5 linked regions of the Homo sapiens genome follow. The protein of the gene in region 1 purifies or fractionates together with the protein of each later gene. This does not show direct contact. Each region holds a gene or a part of one and is shown on either strand. Other genes may lie near its edges.

Evidence for each region.
Region 2: the proteins of PARP16 (region 1) and ECSIT purify together in Homo sapiens (affinity purification with mass spectrometry, with the first as the bait; one large-scale study listed by BioGRID). This does not show direct contact.
Region 3: the proteins of PARP16 (region 1) and LRBA purify together in Homo sapiens (affinity purification with mass spectrometry, with the first as the bait; one large-scale study listed by BioGRID). This does not show direct contact.
Region 4: the proteins of PARP16 (region 1) and DDX20 purify together in Homo sapiens (affinity purification with mass spectrometry, with the first as the bait; one large-scale study listed by BioGRID). This does not show direct contact.
Region 5: the proteins of PARP16 (region 1) and SLC7A5 purify together in Homo sapiens (affinity purification with mass spectrometry; one large-scale study listed by BioGRID and IntAct). This does not show direct contact.

Annotation. Positions count from the first base shown.
Region 1 is NC_000015.10:65,279,446-65,283,883, reverse strand, and holds part of PARP16 (protein mono-ADP-ribosyltransferase PARP16), read left to right. Parts: intron 1-4,438. UniProt on the Homo sapiens protein: Intracellular mono-ADP-ribosyltransferase that plays a role in different processes, such as protein translation and unfolded protein response (UPR), through the mono-ADP-ribosylation of proteins involved in those processes.
Region 2 is NC_000019.10:11,515,244-11,519,681, forward strand, and holds part of ECSIT (evolutionarily conserved signaling intermediate in Toll pathway, mitochondrial isoform 1 precursor), read right to left. Parts: intron 3,951-4,438; 5' UTR 3,928-3,950; coding exon 3,832-3,927; intron 1-3,831.
Region 3 is NC_000004.12:151,008,439-151,012,876, reverse strand, and holds part of LRBA (lipopolysaccharide-responsive and beige-like anchor protein), read left to right. Parts: intron 1-4,438. UniProt on the Homo sapiens protein: Involved in coupling signal transduction and vesicle trafficking to enable polarized secretion and/or membrane deposition of immune effector molecules. Involved in phagophore growth during mitophagy by regulating ATG9A trafficking to mitochondria.
Region 4 is NC_000001.11:111,765,901-111,768,500, forward strand, and holds the end of DDX20 (probable ATP-dependent RNA helicase DDX20), read left to right. Parts: coding exon 1-999; 3' UTR 1,000-2,100; downstream 2,101-2,600.
Region 5 is NC_000016.10:87,859,093-87,863,530, reverse strand, and holds part of SLC7A5 (large neutral amino acids transporter small subunit 1), read left to right. Parts: intron 1-4,438. UniProt on the Homo sapiens protein: The heterodimer with SLC3A2 functions as a sodium-independent, high-affinity transporter that mediates uptake of large neutral amino acids such as phenylalanine, tyrosine, leucine, histidine, methionine, tryptophan, valine, isoleucine and alanine.

The sequences.
Region 1 (4,438 bases):
GTTCAGATACTCAATTTTCTGAGTGTGGTGTATCAGGACCTTGGGTACGAAACTTCATTCAGTTTTGGCAACAGATACTTATGGAGTGTTTGCTATGGGACAGGTGCTAAGGATACAGGATTAACCCGTGGAGAGGTTAACAGTGTTAACCTCTCATACTAGGTAAGCGCCGTACAACATGGAAGCCCAGAGCAAGGACACCCCCTAGCTCTCAGCTTTGGGCCAGGCTCAGGGAACACCATCTAGGGGTGGAGGCTGATGCCTTGCCAAGTCCCAAGGCAGAACTTCAAGAGCAGAGAAGAGGGAAAGAGTATTCCAGGAGGAGTAGCAGGATGGTCAGCCAGGAGGTGTGAGCTTACAGAGAAGGACAAGACTGTGATTTAGTGTGACTGTTGTGGGGAACAGGAAGAGATGAGGCCAGCCTATGGAGCATGCAAGGCTACACATGCCCTGCTAAGTTGTGGAGATTTTTATCCTTGGGCAGGGGAGGGTATAGAGGTGAGATCCAGAAAGACACCTGTGGTGGCAGGGTGAGAGAGGGACCTGTTTGGGAGGAGTGTTTGGGGTCAGAGGGATCAAACTCACAATGCAGCTTTTTTTAAAAAAAAAAATTGAGATGGGGTCTCACAACGTTGTCCAGACTGGTCTTGAACTCCTGGGCGCAAGCAATTCTCCCACCTCAGCCTTCCAAAGTGCTGGGATTACAGGCTTGAGCCACTGCACTTGGCCACAGTGCAGCTTTAATTTTTACCAAGAAACATATCTCTAAGTGGACTAGAATCTGGAACTTATTTTCTTTCTGCTGGAAGGTCTTGGCGAATGCAATCAGGTTTGTTTGGTGAATATGGGATACATGCAAAGGGGCTTGTGGAGTTGTTTTGATCATGCTTTTTAAAATTTATTTTTAATTATGCAGGTAATGTTTGAATATATTCTCATTATAAAAAATTCAAATGATACCAGTAAAGTAAAAGTGCCCCTGATAGATCTCACTCTATCCCTCACCCCTCTGCAAAGGTATCAATTGCTCTGTTTGGGGCCCATCCTCCCCCTTCTCCCTTGCCCCACTTGTAATCCCTTAAGAGAGCATCAGCAACGTAGGTTGCCCCAAAAAGCCACCTCCTCTATAGAGACAGACTGCCCCTCCCATGGGGTTTATTGTACCAGTCCCAGATAGTTACCCTTTCTCTTGAGGGCTACTGGAGAAACACGCATTCTTACCATCCATTTCTGTTGCCATATTCCTTATAGGGCACCATTGTTGAGGAAAATAGCCCAGACTACATAGATTCTTGGCTGTCTGTAGGCATGGCCGTCAGCAGCAAGACTGCTCACAGGTGGGGCCTGGCACCATTTCTGGGGACATGCATACATTCTTAGATAAACACACACTTTAGGCCTCGTTTTGCCACGTCACATGAGTTACTGAAATGATGCAGAGAACTGGGCATCTGGATCTGTATCTGAATCAAAGTCTAACTTTTAAAGAAAAGGGAATCAGGTCTGGAATGGACTGGCTAGATCATTTTGTAGTTACCTGAAGAAGGAAAGTATGGAGCTGTTAAAAAGTCTCTTGGCTGGGCACGGTGGTTCACACCTGTAATCCCAGCCCTCTGGGAGGCTGGGGCGGGTCATTTGAGTCCAGGAGTTTGAAAGCAGCCTGGGCAACATGGCGAAACCCTGTCTTTATAAAAAGATTACAAAAAATTAGCCTGTGTGGTGGTGCACGCCTGTAGTCCCAGCTACTTGGGAGGCTGAGGTCGGAGGTTCACCTGAACCAGGAGGTCAAGGCTGTAGTGGGCCGTGATTGTGCCACTGCACTCCATTCTGGGTGACAAAGTGGGACCCTGTCTCAAAAAAAGTCTCTCACTTTCATTTGTTCAGCTAAAAGCACTAGGAAGTAATGTGAAAGTTTACCATTTTCAGTCATTTAAATCTTTGTCCACACTGTGAGGTGTTATTACACACCTATAACACAAGGGTTGCAGTTTCCAAAAATTAGACCTGTGCCTTAAATTACTTTATTGATTGGTGATTTCCTGAGAACTCCCCACTGCTGAACCAAGCTCTTGGCTTTAGGTCTGATCTAGCCTTATCTTACCACTGTCCTCAAAGTCCCAAATTATCCCTGAGGTGTCTTGTTTTGAGACCATTTTCGTGCTGATAAGCTCTCTGATTTTTTTTTTTTTTTTGAGATGGAGTTTCCCTCTTGTTGCCCAGGCTGGAGTGCAATGGCGCGGTCTCGGCTCACTGCAACCTCTGCCTCCTGGGTTCAAGCGATTCTCCTGCCTCAGTCTCCCTAGTAGTTGGGATTACAGGCAGATGCCATGACGCCCAGCTAATTTTTGTATTTTTAGTAGAGATAGGGTTTCACCATGTTGGTCAAGGCTGGTTTTGAACTCCTGACCTCAGGTGATTCGCCCTCCTCGGCCTCCCAAACTGCTGGGATTACAGGCATGAGCCACCGTGCCTGGCCAGCTCTCTGATTTTACACTGGGAGCTCTTGGTATTTCCAGTGCCTGGCCTGGGAAGTACTTATCAAATGTTTGAGGAATCACATTGTGCGTGTGCTGAATACCCAGGCTCAGGATTTCTCACCTTGCTTTTTGGGACCAGGGTTGGATGAGAGAACCTGTAACATTCTTGGGATTCCCTGTACCCCTTAACCATTGGCCTCCGAACTTCAGGTTTGTCACTTGACACAGTCGCAGCTGTACAGTTTTTTGTTCTGTTTTCCCTCCCGAAATAGCATGTTCTGGTTCTCCATTAGCCTGTAGACCCTTTCTGGGGGTGGGAAGTGTGTGGGAATGGCTTCTTTGTGTTAGCTCCAGGCCCTCGCTGCTTAGTGTGGTTGAGGACCAGCAACATGAGCCTCACCTGGGTGCTCATTAGAAAAGCAGGTCCTGCCTCAGACCTATCCAGTCAGGATCTGCATTTTAACAAATCTGGGCAATTTGTACACATAGTGAAGTCTGAAAAGCACTGCATGAAGCTTACCCTGTTCTCATTTGGGGTGCCAAACTGCTCTAATTGGGCCTCCTGGTCCTGGAGGAGTAAGGAGTCTTTCTCTTTTTTTTCCTCCCTCTTTCTGGTTTCTGGCTTGCACTGTCTAGACACCATGACTCCCCAGTGTCTGGGTTAAAGCGCATATAAGCTCCTCTCTGTCCTGAGCCCTCCTGATGCCATTTCCATCTTTGTTGAAGCAAACTCCCTCTCATCCTTTAAGATACACGTGAAATTTCCACCTTATTCTGTGCCTCCACTCCCTAGCAGTTAGGAGTCCTTCTTTTGGGTTTCTTTATAATTTTAAAATTTTGCTTTTATAAATAATACTTTGATAAACATCCTTCTACATTAATCATTGTTTATATCTGTTGTTGTCTTCTTGGATACATTCTGAGAGGTGAAATTGCTGGTCCATGGCTAATTTTTTTTTTTTTTTTTTTTGAGACGAGTTCTTGCTCTGTTGCCCAGTTTGGAGTGCAGTGGCGTGATCTTGGCTCAGTGCAACCTCTGCCTCCCGGGCTCAAGCGATCCTCCTACGTCAGCCTCCCGTGTAGCTGGGACTCCACGCACATACCACTAAGCCTGGCTAATTTTTGTATTTTTAGTAGAGATGGGGTTTCACCATGTTGCCCAGGCTGGTCTCAAACTCCTGGAGTCAAGCAATCCGCCTGTCTCAACCTTCCAAAATGCTGGGATTACAGGCGTGAACCACCACACCTGGCTCATGGCTAACCTTTCTAAGGAAGGCTTTCGATGCTTATTTCCATATTGGAAATTGAATATTGACATTAACTGGGGAAGATCGTTATTATTATTATTATTGGATTAAAAGAAAAAAGGCAGGAGTCTCGCTATGTTGCCTAGCTGGTCTACAAACTCCTGGTCTCAAGCAGGAGTTGTGTCATTGAGCCCGGTTTGGAAAGATCATTCTTTACAAGCCTCTCAACCTTGGTTGTCATTGAAATCACGTGGGAAACTAAGGAAAAAAAAAAACCCTGACGTCTGAGCCCCATCCTCAGAGATTCTCATTTGATTGGTTTAAAGTGCAGCCTTGGCATTGAGATTTTTTGTTTGTTTCCTTACAGATAATATGTAGCTTTTCTATTTTTCTAGTAACTGATTTGATCATTTTCATGAGCACCCATACCTGCTGGATGGTGAGGAAATGATAACAATTAGATTTGTTAATAATAAAAGTGCCTATTAGGTCTATACTTGATATCTCAAGGTAAGATTCTTGATCTCTCAGATTACCTTTTTATTTCTCTGCTCCTCTCAAAGATGGCATCTGAACAGTGGAGGAGAAAAAGTACACAGGTCTGAAAATATATGGATACAGACATAGATACATATAATATTATGTGACTGTCAGTGGGTAGGTATGTGTCTAGAAAGATATCAGCTAATGGGATGGTGATATGGAGGGTGAAGG
Region 2 (4,438 bases), on another chromosome or scaffold:
CAGGCGCCTGCCACCACGCCCAGCTAATTTTTTGGATTTTTAGTAGAGACGGGGTTTCACTGTGTTAGTCAGGATGGTCTCGATCTCCTGACCTCGTGATCCGCCCGCCTTGGCCTCCCAAGTGCTGGGATTACAGGCATGAGCCACCGCGCCCGGCGTAGCCACCTTAAGTCTTGAGATTACAGGCATGAGCCACTGTACCCAGCCCCTTCTTTCTTTTTCTTTTTTTCTTGAGACAGAGTTTCACTCGTCGCCCAGGCTGGAATGCAATGGTGTCATCTCAGCTCACTGCAACCTCTGCCTTGTGGGTTCAAGCGATTCTCCTGCCTCAGCCTCCCAAGTAGCTAGGATTACAGGCGCCTGCCACCATGCCCAGCTAATTTTTATGTTTTGTTTGTTTGTTTTTCCTGAGATGGAGTCTCGCTCTGTTGCCAGGCTGGAGTGCAGTCACACGATCTCAGCTCACTATAACCTCTGACTCCCTGGTTCAAGCAATTCTTCTGCCTCAGCCTCCCAAGTAGCTGGGATTACAGGCACATGCCACCATGCCCAGTTAACTTTTGTATTTTTAGTAGAGACAGGGTTTCACCATGTTGGCCAGGCTGGTCTTGAACTCCTGACCTTGTGATCCGCCCACCTCGGCCTCCCAAAGTGCTGGGATTACAGATGTGAGCCACCATGCCCGGCCTAATTTTTGTGTTTTTAGTAGAGACGGGGTTTCACCATGTTGGCCAGGATGGTCTCGAATTCCTGACCTAAGGTGATCCACCCACCGTGGCCTCCCAAAGTGCTGGGACCCTTTAAGAGATGGAGTCTAGCTATGTTGCCCAGGCGGGAGTGCAGTGGCTATTCACAGGCATGAGCCAACTGGTCAGCACAGGAGTTTTGACCTGCTGTTTCCAACCTGGGTCAGTTCACACTTCCTTAGGCAACCTGGTGGTCCCCCAAGTCCCAGGAGGTCACAATATTAAGCAAAACTTAGTGCAGGACACTCCATCAGCATAGTGCACAACAGCCCAGAACTCCTGGGCTCAAGTGATCCTCCCACCTCAGCCTCCAGAGTAGCCAAATTCTGGTTCTAGATGACACAGTAACAAATTTCTTATTTTAAATTGAATTTTTAAATTAGAAGGGTTACATATAAGGCATCTTAAAAATATACAGCTAGTTATCAAGGTTGTACTGTGCTTTGATTGCACCACCGCATTGCAGCCTGGGCAACATAGTGAGACTCCATCTCTCTATGAAAAAATAAAAAAATAAGCGGGGCGTGGTGGTGTATACCTGTAGTCCCAGCTACTCAGGAGGCTGAAGCAGGAGGACTGCTTAAGCCCAGGAATCCCAGGCTGCAGTGAGCTATGATTGTGTCACTGCACTCCAACCTGAACGAGAGAGTAAAACCTTATCTCTAAAAAATAAATGAATGTGTGTGTGTTTATCTACACACACACACACACACACACAAAACGCTAACAAGTAAGAGCCAATATTAGTCCAGGCTCGGTGGCTCACACCTGTAATCCTAGCACTTTGGGAGGCTGAGGCGGGCAGATCACCTGAGGTCAGGAGTTTGAGACCAGCCTGGGCAACCTGCTGAAACCTCATGTCTACAAAAAAATACAAAAATTAGCCAGGCATGGTGGTGAATGTATGTAGTCCCAGCTACTCAGGAGGCTGAAGTAGGCAGATCAATTGAGACTGGCGGGTCGAGGTTGCAGTGAGCCAAGATCACGCCACTACACTCCAGCATGGGCAACAGAGCGAGACCCTATCTCAAAAGAAAGAGACAATATTTACCAAATATTCTTCCACTGTAGACACAGTTGAGCACTTTACAAATGTGAGGCCCTAGGTGGGGGGTACTCTTACTGCACTCATTTTACAGATGAGAAAAACCAAGGCTCAGGAAGATGAAGTGGGATGCACAGTGTTACACAGCTGCAAAGCATCAGAGCTGAGAATGGAGTCAGTGCCCTCAGTCCCCCTACTCTGCGGTCCCCACAGCCATCCCATATCGTTCTTTGATAAGGCAATGTTAAAAAAAAAAAAAGGCATTCATTTACAGTAAAATTTCAGGTTGGGCGCAGTGGCTCGTGCCTGTAATCCCAGCACTTTTGAGAGGCGGGTGGATCACTTGAGGTCAGGAGTTTGAGACCAGCCTGGCCAACATGGTGAAACCCCATCTCTACCAAAAATGCAAAAATTAGCCAGGTGTGGTGCCGCACACCTGTAATCCCAGCTACTCAGGAGGCTGAGGCAGGAAAATCACTTGAACCCGGGAGGCAGAGGTTGCAATGAGCTGAGATCACGCCACTGCACTCCAGCCTGGGTGACAGAGGGAGACTCCATCTCAAAAACAAAAAACAACTGAAATTTCAGTCAATTAATAATATAGGTGGTGTAGTATTGTACCACTTTGGGGTAAAAATCAGAAAGGAAGCTCTAAAATGCCTAACGAGGGGGAAACACTGCAAAGGAGGTAATGTAAATGAAATGCATAGTGCGGGGCCGGGCACAGAGTAAGTGCTCAATATGGGAACTATTAATATTCCCACCATCATCGTTATTGCTATCTATGGCTGTCAATCTGCTTTCGCCATCTGGTCACTATGGGTATAGGAAAGAAATTCAGTTTTCTGCCCCATCTTCACAAGTAGATGCAGGAGGAGCTGCTCACAGTCACCACACAAATCCACCGAGCTCATACATCCTTATTTTCAAAGTCAATCCCCTCACCCACGTAGGCACTAGCATCTCTTAAATTAGGGTCCAGGCACAGTGGCTCACACTTGTAATCCTAGCACTTTGGGAGGCCAAAGTGGAAGGACTGAGGGCCCAGAGGTTCAAGACCAGTCTGGGCAACACAACAAGACCATATACTTAAAAAAAAAAAAAATTAGCGGCCGGGTGCGGTGGCTTATGCCTGTAATCCCAGCACTCTGGGAGGCCGAGGCGGGTGAATCACCTGAGGTCAGGAGTTTGAGACCAGCCTCGCCAACATGGCAAAACCGCGTCTCTACTAAAATTACAAAAATTAGCTGGGCGTGGTGATGTGCACTTGTAATCACAGCTACTCGGCAGGCTGAGGCAGGAGAATCACTTGAACCCAGGAGGCAGAGGTTGCAGTGAGCCAAGACCACGCCACTGCACTCCAGCTTTGGCGACAAGAGCAAAATTCCATCTAAAAAAAAAAAAATTAGCTGGGCATGGTGGCTCAAATCAGTGATCCCAGCTACTCAGGGGGCTGAGGTGGGAGGCTCATTTGAGCCCAGGAGTTTGAGGCTGCAGTGAGCCCTGATTCCACCACTGTACTCCAGCCTGGGTGATAGAGCAAGACCTTGTTTCAAAAAAATAAATAAATTATGGACTTTTGGCCAGGCGCGGTGGCTCACGCCTGTAATCCCAGCACTTTGGGAGGCTGACGCAGGTGGATCACTTGAGCCCAGAGTTCAAGACCAGCCTGCCCAACATGGTGAAACCCCGTCTCTACAAAAAAAATACAAAAACTAGCCGGGTGTGGTAGTATGTGCCTGTAGTCCTGGGTACTTGGGAGGATGAGGCGGGAGGATTGCTTGAACCTGGGAGGTCAAGACTACAGTGAGCTGTAATCACACTACTGCACTCCAGCCTTGGTGACAGAGACACTGTCTCAAAAAACAAACACATAAACATACATACATACATAAACTAAGGACTTTTAATGGGACCTCGGCACTGATAGGCCAGCCCAGACTCACCAGAACTGGCTTCACAGAGTGGATTCTGAAGGAGTTGGGAGCAAATCCCAAGCTTACCTCCCTCTACCCAAAAGACTGCCTGGCTGGTGCTTACCTGAGAGATGGAGGTTCCTGTGAGGGCGGCCCCGCAGGTGCCTCCCCAGGCCCTACAGAGGCCTCGGGCCAGTAGGGTGGCCTGGACCCAGCTCATGCCTCTGCTTGTCAGACAATCACCTGGCCCAAAAGAAGATTCAGCATTAGCCTGGCACCTTACAGATGCTAACAGACGCAAGGGCCCCGCAGGGTCGAGGGCACACTCCAGATTATGTGGCTCACTCACCAGCCCCAATGTTTACCTTACCCAAGAAACAGGCTGATGACTCAAAGACTTTGTTCTTGGGACAGCACCCTAATCCTGCTGCCCCAGGGGCGTGATCATAGCTCAATGCAGCCTCCAACTTCTGGGCCCAAGTGATCCTCCAGCCCCAGAGCGTCGAGAAGCTGGGACTACAGACGCGTGCCACCATGCCCAGCTAATTTGAAAATAGTTTGCAGAGACCCAGGGTCTTGCTGTGTTGCCCAGGCTGGTCTCGAACTGTTGGCTTCAAGTGATCCTCCCATCTCTGTCTCCAAAAGTGCTGGGATCATGGGTGTGAGCCAGCACTCCTAGCCACTACAATCTAATTTTACAAAATCTGTGTCACTCCAACAAGAATCCCTGT
Region 3 (4,438 bases), on another chromosome or scaffold:
ATCGTGCCAATGCACTCCAGCCTGGGTGGCAGAGTGAGAGACTGTTTCAAAAAAAAAAAAAAAAAAAAGAAATTCACTTACTTTTGAAGAATGAAAGCTTTGAACAATTGGATATTTCTATGTCAGTTTATTGGGAGTTTATGTATAAACACCTATAGACACACACATGCATATTTTAAAAAACTGCATATTATGGAAATGTTCAAATATATGCAAAAATAGAATAGTATAATGAACTCTGGTATCCGTTGTGCAGCTTCAACAGTTGTCAACATTTTGGGGATCTTGTGTGTGCGCATGTGTGTGGGGCTTTCATATGTAAGTCTGAGGAAGATAAATGGTAAATTGATTGCTTTACCTCAAAATAGACTTGAAACATTTCCTTTCTGATTTTTTGTTCTTTTTTAAAATGTCATATGCCTTCAGTGAGAAACAGAAATTTGTGGTAGTAATATAATCCATAATTACTTATTTGTGTGTGAAGACACAACATCTTTTGGCAGAAGGAGGATTTGAACTCCTGTTCTTTAGAATGTGCTGTGTTGGAGTGGATGACCAAACGTGAGTCATTTGCATTTTTATCATTAAAGAAAATCCAAATTCTATAGCAGCATTTGCTTATACGCTTCCTAGAACTGTAGACCTGGTATAGATTTTAAGGTCATTGGTTAAGTCCTTCAAAGCTGCGTATTTGCAGGATAGTAGGTGCCTGGATAGAAGGAGAGAGAAGAGTCTGTTCAGTTAGTTACCCTCCTCTTCAATATCATTCGCTTGTCAGGTAGGGCAGGAAAAGTTGCTGAGAATATTAGGTAGCAGTTTCTCCCCTTCCATTGTCCCTTAAAATACTTTTCATGCTCTTTCATGGATTATCTGGGGTTTTGGCCACTCTAGAAAATCTTTGGAAGCAGCTGCGCACAGTGGCTCATGCTTGTAATCCCAGAGCTTTGGGAGGTTCACTTGAGGCCAAGAGTTTGAGACCAGCCTGGGCACTATAGTGAGACCCTGTCTCTACAAAAAAAAAAATTAAATAAAAAATTAGCTGGGCATGGTGGCATATACCTGTGGTCCCAGCTACTTGGGAGGATGAGGTGGGAGGATCCCTTGAGCCCAGGAGTTCGAGGCTACAGTGAGCTACAATCATGCAGAGCAACACCCTGAAAAAAAAAATTAGAACGAAAGTATTGGGATTCTGTAAATTAGTCCATCTCAATGTTGTTAGTACTGCTACACGTAAATATTTCCTAATTGATAGTTAGTCTTTTTTTTTTTTTTTTTTTTTGAGATAGAGTCTCAGTCTGTTGCCCAGGCTGGAGTGCAGTGGTGCAACCTTGCCTCCCTGCAACCTCTGCCTCCTGAGTTCAAGTGATTCTCCTGCCTCAGACTCCCAAGTAGCTGGGACCACAGGCGTGCGCCATGAGGCCCGACTAATTTTTGTATTTTTGGTAGAGGCGGGGTTTCACCATGTTGGCCAGGCTGGTCTCAAAATCTTGACCTCAGGTGATCCACCCGTTCAGCCTCCTGAAGTGCTGGAATTACAGGCTTAAGCCACCACGCCTGGCCTAAATATTAGCTACTTAAACAATAAAGTTTATACTGTTAAAATTGAACAAGTTCCTCTCCTCCAGAGGTGTCCAAATAGTACATGGTAGAGCCATATAACTTTCCAGAGTTTTTTCTCTTTTTTTTTTTTGAGACAGAGTCTTGCTCTGTTGCCTAGGCTGGAGTGCAATGGTGCGATCTCAGCTCACTGCAAGCTCCGCCTCCTGGGTTCATGCCATTCTCCGGCGTCAGCCTCCCAAGTAGCTGGGACTACAGGTGCCCGCCACCACGCCCAGCTAATTTTTTGTATTTTTAGTAGAGACGGGGTTTCACCGTGTCAGCCAGGATGGTCTCGATCTCCTGACCTCGTGATCCGCCTGCCTCAGCCTCCCAAAGTGCTGGGATTACAGGCGTGAACCACTGTGCCCGGCCTTTTTTTTTTTTTTTTTTAATTGAGAGGGAGTCTCACTCTGTCACCCAGGTTGGAGTGCAGTGGTGCGATCTCAGCTCACTGCAACCTCTGCTGCTCGGATTCAAGCAATTCTTGTGCCTCAGCCTCCCCAGTAGCTGGATCTACAGGCACGCACCACCATGCCCGGCTAATTTTTTTGTATTTTTAGTAGAAATTAGGTTTCACCATGTTGGCCAGGCTGGTCTTGAACTCCCGACCTCAGGTGATCTGCCTGCCTTGGCCTTCCCAAAGTGCTGGGATTACAGGTGTGAGCCACCGTGCCTGGCCCAGAGTTTTTTCTTAAGTGCTACCTTCCAACTTTGCTAATGTAGCTTGACCTTAGTCTGTTATAAATTACTTTGAAATTTACTACCCTGTTTATAATTTCTTTTGCAAATCTGTTTTGCAGATAAATTTTGATTAACAGTGCACCAATGTAGTCAAGTGTTTCAAACTTCTGGTCAACTTGTACATTTTTCTTGTTGCAGTTTAAAACATTTTATTTTGTTTTCATCTGTATTTTAAAGTAATTTGTCAAACTTTTAGACCCAGAATAATTAATATATGTTGGCATGTTTTCAGGAACTTGCTGCTGAGTTTAAGGCTTCCATCAGGTATTTAAAGGTATTTAGTGCTACCTAATTCAAGAATAGTGATTCCCATGAGCTGGTGACAAATACATACTTTCATGATTTTTTAAAAAATTTTTGTTAAGTAATTACAGTCACCCCTTGATATGTGGGGGATTGGTTCCAGAACCCCTAGTGGATACCACAATTTTCAGAAGCTCCAGTCTCTTATATAAAATGGTATAGTATTTGCATATAACTTACATGTATCTTCCGTATACTTTAAATCATCTCTTTAAAATTTTTATTTATTTATTTATTTATTTATTTATTTTTTTGAGATGGAGCCTCACTCTGTCCCCCATGCTGGAGTGCAGTGGCGCGATCTCGGCTCACTGCAAGGTCCGCCTCCCAGGTTCACGCCATTCTCCTGCCTCAGCCTCCCAAGTAGCTGGGACTACAGGCACGTGCCACCACGCCCAGCTAATTTTTTGTATTTTTAGTAGAGACAGGGTTTAACCGTGTTAGCCAGGATGGCCTGGATCTCCTGACCTCGTGATCCACCCGCCCTGGCCTCTCAAAGTGCTGGGATTACAGGCGTGAGCCACCGCGCCTTGCTCTGTTGCCCAGGCTTGAGTACAGTGGCTTGATCATAGCTCACTGTAGCCTCAAATTCCTGGGCTTAAGCTGCTCTCCTGCCTCAGTCTCCTGAGTAGCTAGGACTTAGAGGCGTATGCCACCAAAACCCGCTAGTTTTTTTTTTTTTTTTTGAGACAGAGTCTTGCTCCCTCACCAGGCTGGAGTGCAGTGGCGCGATCTTGGCTCAGTGTAACCTCCACTTCCTGGGTTCAAGCAATTCTCCTGCCTCAGCCTCCTGAGTAGCTGGGATTACAGGCGTGTGCCACCACACCCAGCTAATTATTGTATTTTTAGTAGAGACGGGGTTTCACCATGTTGGCCAGGCTGGTCTCAAACTCCTGGCCTCAAGTGATCTGCCTGCCTTGGCTTCCTGAAAATGCTGGGATTACAAGTTTGAGCCACCATGCCCGGCTTTCTCCCATATACTTTAAATCATCTCTAGATTACTTAGAATACCTAATAGAATGTAAATTCTATATAAACAGTTGTACTCTATATTTGAAAATTTGAGCTGGGCACAGTGGCTCATGCCTATAATCCCAGCAGTTTGGGAGGCTGAGGTGGGAGGTCAGAAGTTTGAGGTCAGAAGTTCAACACCAGCCTGTGCAACATAGTAAGACCTTGTCTGTATAAGAAAAAAAAATACCATTTTATATATATATATATATATATATATATATATATATATATTTTTTTTTTTTTTTTTTTTGAGATGGAGTCTCACTCTGCCACCCAGGCTGGAGTGCAGTGGCGTGATCTTGGCTCACTGCAACCTCCGCCTCCCGGGTTCAAGCAATTCTATCTCAGCCTCCTGAGTAACTGGTATTACAGGGATGCACCAGCAAGCCCGGCTAATTTTTGTATTTTTGGTAGAGATGGCGTTTCACCACGTTGGCTAGACTGTTCTTGAACTCCTGACCTCGTGATCCGCCTGCCTCAGCCTCCCAAAGTGCTCGGATTACAGGCGTGAGCCACTGCGCCCAGCCTAGAGGTGGCTTTTTTAAACCTTCATTGAGATATGCAGTTGACTCTTGAATAACATGAGTTTGAACTGCATGGGTCCATTTATATGGTGATTTTTTTTTTCAACCAAACTCGAATTGAAAATACAGTATTCCTGGGATGTGAAACTGTTGCATACTAAGGGCTTACTTTTTATATCACTGGGTTCCACAGGGCCATTGCAGGACTTATCTGAGTATGCTCAGATTTTGGTCTATGCAGGAGTCCTGGAACCAAT
Region 4 (2,600 bases), on another chromosome or scaffold:
ATGGCTTCCTCTAGAAATAATTCTGTATCTGGACTATCAGTCAAATCAAAAAATAATACCAAACAAAAGCTTCCTGTGAAAAGCCACTCAGAATGTGGAATCATAGAAAAAGCAACGTCACCAAAAGAACTGGGCTGTGACAGGCAATCCGAAGAGCAAATGAAGAATTCTGTTCAGACTCCCGTTGAAAACTCCACCAACAGTCAGCACCAGGTCAAAGAAGCTTTACCTGTGTCACTCCCCCAGATTCCTTGTCTGTCTTCCTTTAAAATCCATCAGCCATACACGTTGACTTTTGCTGAATTGGTAGAGGATTATGAACATTATATTAAAGAGGGGTTAGAGAAACCTGTGGAAATCATCAGGCACTACACAGGCCCTGGGGATCAGACTGTGAATCCTCAAAATGGTTTTGTGAGAAATAAAGTTATTGAACAGAGAGTCCCTGTGTTGGCAAGTAGTAGCCAATCTGGAGACTCTGAGAGTGACAGTGATTCTTACAGCTCAAGAACCTCTTCCCAGAGCAAAGGAAATAAGTCATACTTGGAAGGCTCTTCTGATAATCAGCTGAAAGACTCTGAATCTACGCCTGTGGATGATCGTATTTCTTTGGAACAACCACCAAATGGAAGTGACACCCCCAATCCAGAGAAATATCAAGAATCACCTGGAATCCAGATGAAGACAAGACTTAAAGAGGGGGCTAGCCAGAGAGCTAAGCAGAGCCGGAGAAACCTACCCAGGCGGTCTTCCTTCAGATTGCAGACTGAAGCCCAGGAAGATGATTGGTATGACTGTCATAGGGAAATACGTCTGAGTTTTTCTGATACCTATCAGGATTATGAGGAGTACTGGAGAGCTTACTACAGGGCATGGCAAGAATATTATGCTGCCGCTTCTCATTCATATTATTGGAATGCTCAGAGACATCCAAGTTGGATGGCAGCTTATCACATGAATACCATTTATCTACAAGAAATGATGCATAGTAACCAGTGATTATAGGATATACCTGAGACCATCAGGAACTGTCAACAAATGATACCTTTGGATATCCATCCTCCTCGACTTATAGTACAGTGGTGTATAGTGGCATTTCTGATAAACTTGAAAAGACTTGAGTCTTTCCACTGGGACACATCCATTTTTCAGATTGTTTTGATTTAGGCCAGGTATATTATCTTCATTTTTAAGAGTTTCTTTAAGAAACTTCATCAGATTGTTGAAAGATAATTTTTGGGACATAGAGCTGAAAGTTTCAGGGTGCCATTTTCTATAAGATCTTCCCAAAAGAAACATTTAAAAAGATGACATATACCACCACTTACTTAAAAACAATAAAAGCAATAGATTTGATTAGTAATATTATTGCTGTGGAGTTCTTTACAAAGGGCTTAGGCTGCATTTCCTTCTATAGAGGTGCATTCTTGTAGAAATTTGTAGCATGGTAGATCAGAAAATCCTCTTAGGTTTTAGGCAGGAAGGAATATTTAAACATTGCTTTAGATTTTCCTAAAGGTATTTGATTTGATCTGTTAGCTTCCAGTAAAAATATTTGTTTTTAGTAAAAACAAATTTAAATATATTTACATGTTTGTTGTTTATCTTTTGAATGTCTTTTGAGGCTGTGAAAGCTGTCCACATTTTTGCTGTGTATTAAATAGCTGTGGGTCATCAGTTGCTGTCTTACTTGTGTTGCTCAGATAGAGGAGCAGCTCTTAATCTTTTTTGGTTCTTGGATCCTTTTATGAATCAGCTGATAGCTATAGATTGACTTCAGGAAATTTCTCATTCCATAAGCACAGAATTGTGAGTGTAATTTCAAGGGGTTCATAGACCCTCTGAAGTTCATCTATACAGTCCAGATTAACAAGTGACCTGCTCTGCTGGTAGGCTAGGGGAAGTTCTAGCTCTTAGTTTTAAGTATTTTGTGGAAGCTGGAATTGATTCTCTTCAGACACTTCTTAGTACATCCTAATTTTGTGTCTTCTAGAAAATTTTCCCCAGTTTTTACCTCTAATGTTAGGATCCAAGAGGAGCTTGGATCTGAGCTGATGCATCTGTAAATTACGATTTAGAAAAATATAATTGGAAATTACATATTCTTTGCTTTTTTCCTCTGGAAATCCTTTTATGATTAAGCTTTTGGTTCCCAAGCCTTTCTGTGAACTGGATTTTTTATGAGAGAACCACTTGTGTAGAGAGATGTGTATTCACTTTTTAAAAGGAAAGCTCTTCTTTCCTGTGTACATACTTGTCTAGGTAGTATAAACACTTTCCCCAGGGCTGTCAGCAAACACCCACAGCCATTGTCATTTATTGTCCAACACCTACATAACACAATTCTAAAATCCTACTTAACTTGGATTCCTGTCATTTGGATTGGGCAATATTAGGCTTTTCTTACATGTGTCAGTATGTGAATTAATTAATAATGTAGATAGCAAATCCATAATTAGGTCCAGTATGTCATTAAGAAGTAGAGATTTTAATTACACATTTAAATAAGATCCTGTCATTGATATATAATTGAATTTACTTTTTCCATCCTTTCCCCCACAATACAGCCAAGTTCAGTTTGTCATTGCTGGGGGATTTTA
Region 5 (4,438 bases), on another chromosome or scaffold:
AGTAGGGTTGTGTGGTTATTTATTGCTTAACGAAGACTTGGCAGCGTGTACTGGAAATTCAAGCGATGCTGGGTTTTATCAGAAGGCGCAAAGGCTGGAGCTGAGATTCTGGCTGGGCCTGGATTTGGTTTGGGCAGTTTATCTGACCTCCCTGGGCCCCAGCTGGCTCTGCATAGCGAGTAGGGTAGCATCCACTCAAAGTCCCGGTCCACTGTGGCCCGGCACTGATCCAGGCGAGTTCTCAGTAAGTGGGAACTCACAGGTTCAGAAGATGCTGTGGGCCTCAGGGGCTTCCACCTCCAGGGAGGTGCTCTCAGAAGAAGGGCCCGATGGGCTCACTGCATCGTGGAGAAGATACCCTGGCTCAGTCTCAGTCACTTCTCCAAGCGCATAGGTGTTCGGGAAGTGGCCTGCAGACAGCTCCTCCATGCCTTGAAAGCAGAAGTAGCCCCCTCCTGTTTCCCTGTCCCAGTTGGGTGAAGCATGGGGGGCTGCTGAGACAGTCCCAGGCGTGCCGTCACGCAGGGGCAGGCCGTCCGTCGGTCTCGCGGGACTCTGGCTGCGGGTGGCTGAGGACACCTGGCCTCATGGGAGACGGTGCCAGGGTCCCTGGAGTGAGGTGGCTCTCCTCCCCATGGCTGTCACTCCTCAGCAGATTGGTGTGGGCGGGTATGCGTTTAGGAACCTGTGAGCTGAGACACTGTCCAGCTAGCATCAGGCCAAAAGCAACCAAGGCTTTGAGAAATCCACCTGGCCCCGCCGAGCCTGTTTCTGACTGTGGAATGGGATTGGCCCCAGCGCCAGGTGTCTGGGAATCCCAGGCCTCTGCGTGTGAAGGTGCCAGTTGCACGGGCTGTGACCGTCCCTCCACGTGCCTGTATCTCCTGCTCACTGTGCACATGGAGCAGCCCTCAGCCTCACTGTCTTCTCCTCTGGCAAAAGAAGGAAGGAGCAAGGGAACAAAGAGAGGGAGGGAAGAGCCAGAGACAGGAGCCAGGGTTTCCTTTAGTCTGGAGCTCTGGGTGCGAGATGATGTCACCCACCCACGCTCGGCACAGGCCCAGGGTCGGGGGGCTATGGGTGGAAGTAGGAATCGCCACAACTGTCTCTGAGCCCCTCCCTAAAGGGTGAAGGGTGTAAGGGGTGGGTTTTGATGGCTGTGGGCTTAGCTGTGGTCAGTGGACTCAAAGGCCAGTTGGCCAGTTAGCAGTGACCAGAGAGCAGAGGGGGCCTGTGTGTGTTTTGCCCCAGGGTCTTCAGGCTGCCTGGCTGCCTCTATCTGCCCCCTGGGTGTCCAGCACCACCCCCCCAACCGCTGGGGTATCCAGCACCTGTAACCTGTAGCCCCGCTTCTCAGTCCAGGCCTGTTCCAGGGCCCCCCTGGGGTATCAAGCACCTGTAGCCTGTAGCCCCACTTCTCAGTCCAGGCCTGTGTAAAACCTGGCCCCGGGTTGGGTTTTGGGATCCCTGCACCCCTCCACCCCCAACCCCCCACAGCTGGGATCCTGGCTCAGCTGGCAAAGGTTCTGCGTGTTTAAGGAGCTGGGTGGGCCCCAGAGCTCAAGCCGTGGGCTCATTGCAGGCGGCAGCCAGTGATTAGTGCTGAAATCTGACTTTCCCAGCCGCACATGAAAGTGCCGCCGGCACCTAGGCAGGTCACGCTGCATCACGGGATTCGGGGCAAGGCCGTAGGGGGAGCTCACAGAAGCACATGACCTGAGCCACACAGGAGAGCCTAACGGGCACTTGTGACCCTTTTTTCTTGGGTCACAGACCTCTTTCATAATCCAGCAGAATGTGCAGAATCTTGCCCAGAAATGTGTATCAGCCGCCTTCACACAGAAGGGTGGGTTGCGCAGACCCCCGGGGGCCCAGGCCAGGTTGAGAGCCACCCCCAGGAGAGGGGTGTCCAAGGTAGGGCACACTCTTGGACCACCTCTTGGCACCTCTTGGCCACCTCTTGGCCACCACTTTGCACTCCAGCCTTTGAAGCCAGTGATAATCCCCAATTTACAGCTGGGGAAACTGAGGCAGGAGCGAGCCAGGAGCCAGGGGCCACAGTGCCCACCTCTACACTGAGGCCACCATTTGTCATCAGGCATAGGGGAGCACAAAGCCACGCCTGGGGAGTCTGGTGGGTGCCAGGGGTCTGGGGAGGTGTCAGTCAGCAAGACTGGGTGGCCCAGTCGGCCCAGGTAAGGACACAGGTGGGTCAGAGGCTCATCTGTGTTCCCCAGCATCCCCTAGGGGCCCTTTGCGCTCCTCCACCCTTCTCCATCCTTCCCAGACTCACATCCAGGTACCCTGGACAGCCACAGGGTTCTGCCCCCCAGTAGGCCTGGCCCTCCCTGGAGCATCACCTGGATAGCTGGCCATGGGCAGGCCTTGCCTGGCCCGTCTGCAGGGACAGGACACGTGTATGCATGCAGATTGGTACTGTGTGCCCGCACGCTCCCCAGAGGCCCTGTGGCAGCACCCTCTTCCCGCTGCTGCCCTTTTCCAACAGGAGGGCCCCCCACAGCGTCTCCTTCCCTGATACTGGCCGAATCCTGAATTCTCCCTCTGGAAGGCGGACCCTCCGGGGTGGCCACAGCACGTGCGTGCCTCCGGGAGTGTGGGAGGCGTCTCTCCCTGCATCCCTGGCCGTCAGACCACCCCAGGTGGGGACCGTTCTCTGGCATTGCCCGCCCCTCCCCTGCCCTAGGATTTGCCCACTACGTGAGGAATGAGCACCGACCTCCTATTCTGGGCCTTGGAGCGTGACGCCCGCAAACTCGATCCCTGCTGAGTCATCCTGACCTCGGGGTGGGCCAGCATCTGTCACTACTGAGACACTGTATGTGTGAGCTGCTTGTTAACGAGAAAGCCAGACTCTGTAAAATGTTTGAAGAGATTTATCCGGAGTCAAATGTGAGGACCAAGGCCTGGAGGCCCTGAGGACATGTGCCCCAGGGGGTGGGCCACAGCTGGAGTTCATACCTCCTACAAGGACAGAAGTTACAGGCAGACATCAGTCAGTACATGAAAGGTATTTGTTGGTTCTGCCGAGAAAGGCGGGACAACTCCAAGGCGGGGATGGGCTTCCTGGTCACAGGTGGGTTCGAAGATTTCCTTTTTCTTTATATATATATGTGTGTGTGTGTGTGTGTGTGTGTGTGTGTGTGTGTGTGTGTGTGTGTGTGTGTGTGTATTTTTTTTTTTTTTTGAGATGCTTTTGTTACTCGGGCTGGAGTGCAGTGGTATGATCTCAGTTCACTGCAACCTCCGCCTCCTGGGTTCAAGTGATTCTCCTGCCTTAGCTTCCCGAGTAGCTGGGACTACAGGCATGCACCACCATGCCCAGCTAATTTTGTGTTTTTAGTAGAGACGGGGGTTTCACCATGTTGGTCAGGCTGGTTTCGAACTCTTGATCTCAGGTGATCCGCCCACCTTGGCTTCCCAAAGTGCTGGGATTACAGGTGTGAGCCACCGTGCCTGGCAAAAGATTTTCTGATTCACAATTGGTTGAAAGAGTTATTAGCTAAAGACCTGGTATCAATAGAAAGGAGTATCTGGGTAAGACAGGAGGTTGTGGAGACGAATATTGTGTTTTGTTTTGTTTTGTTTTGTTTTGTTTTTGTCACCCAGGCTGGAGTGCAGTGGCATGATCTCAGCTCACTGCAACCCGGTTCAAGCGATTCTCCTGCCTCAGCCTCGCAAGTAGCTGGGATTGCAGGTGCCTGCCGCCACCATGCCTGGCTAATTTTGTATTTTTAGTAGAGATGGGGTTTCTCCATGTTGGTCGGGCTGGTCTCGAACTCCTGACCTCGTGATCTGCCCACCTCAGCCTCCCAAAGTGCTGGGATTACAGGCATGAGCCACTGAGCCAGGCCAAGATCTGTGTTTGAGTGTTAGTGCTGGTCCGCTGTACCTGAATTCCAGAGGGAGGGGGTATAACAAGGCCTGTGTGACCCCCTCTTCCCATCGTGACCTGAGCTCGTTTTTCAGGTTAACTTTGGAATATCCCTTTGGCAATAGGAGGGGTCCCTTTAGTCAGTTACGGGGCTTAGAATTTTATTTTTGGTGTACGTGCTCAAACTGCAGCTGCTACAAAACCAAGGCCATGGTGACCCCGGGGCCAGTCCAGCTTTGTCCCTGTGCTCTCGAGCTGCTGGAGGCCAATGCAGGATTCTGTCCACGGCTCTCATGTGTGGCTTCAGAGCCTGAGGGTTCTTGGGGCCCTGTCTTCACCTGCTACCGTGTAGGGGCCTTGTGAGCTGAGTCAACTGGAAGAGCCCAGGGCCTCTGCAGAAGGCCTGAGCAGGGCCCGGGCACTGTCCCTGGAGCTCTGAGTCCCTCAAGCTGTGTGGCCCGGAGCCAGGCGCTTGACTTCTCTGGTCGTTTGCTTCAGAGCTGGAAGCCTGGGGTGACGTGGGTCTTTGGCAGGGGTCAGGTAGGG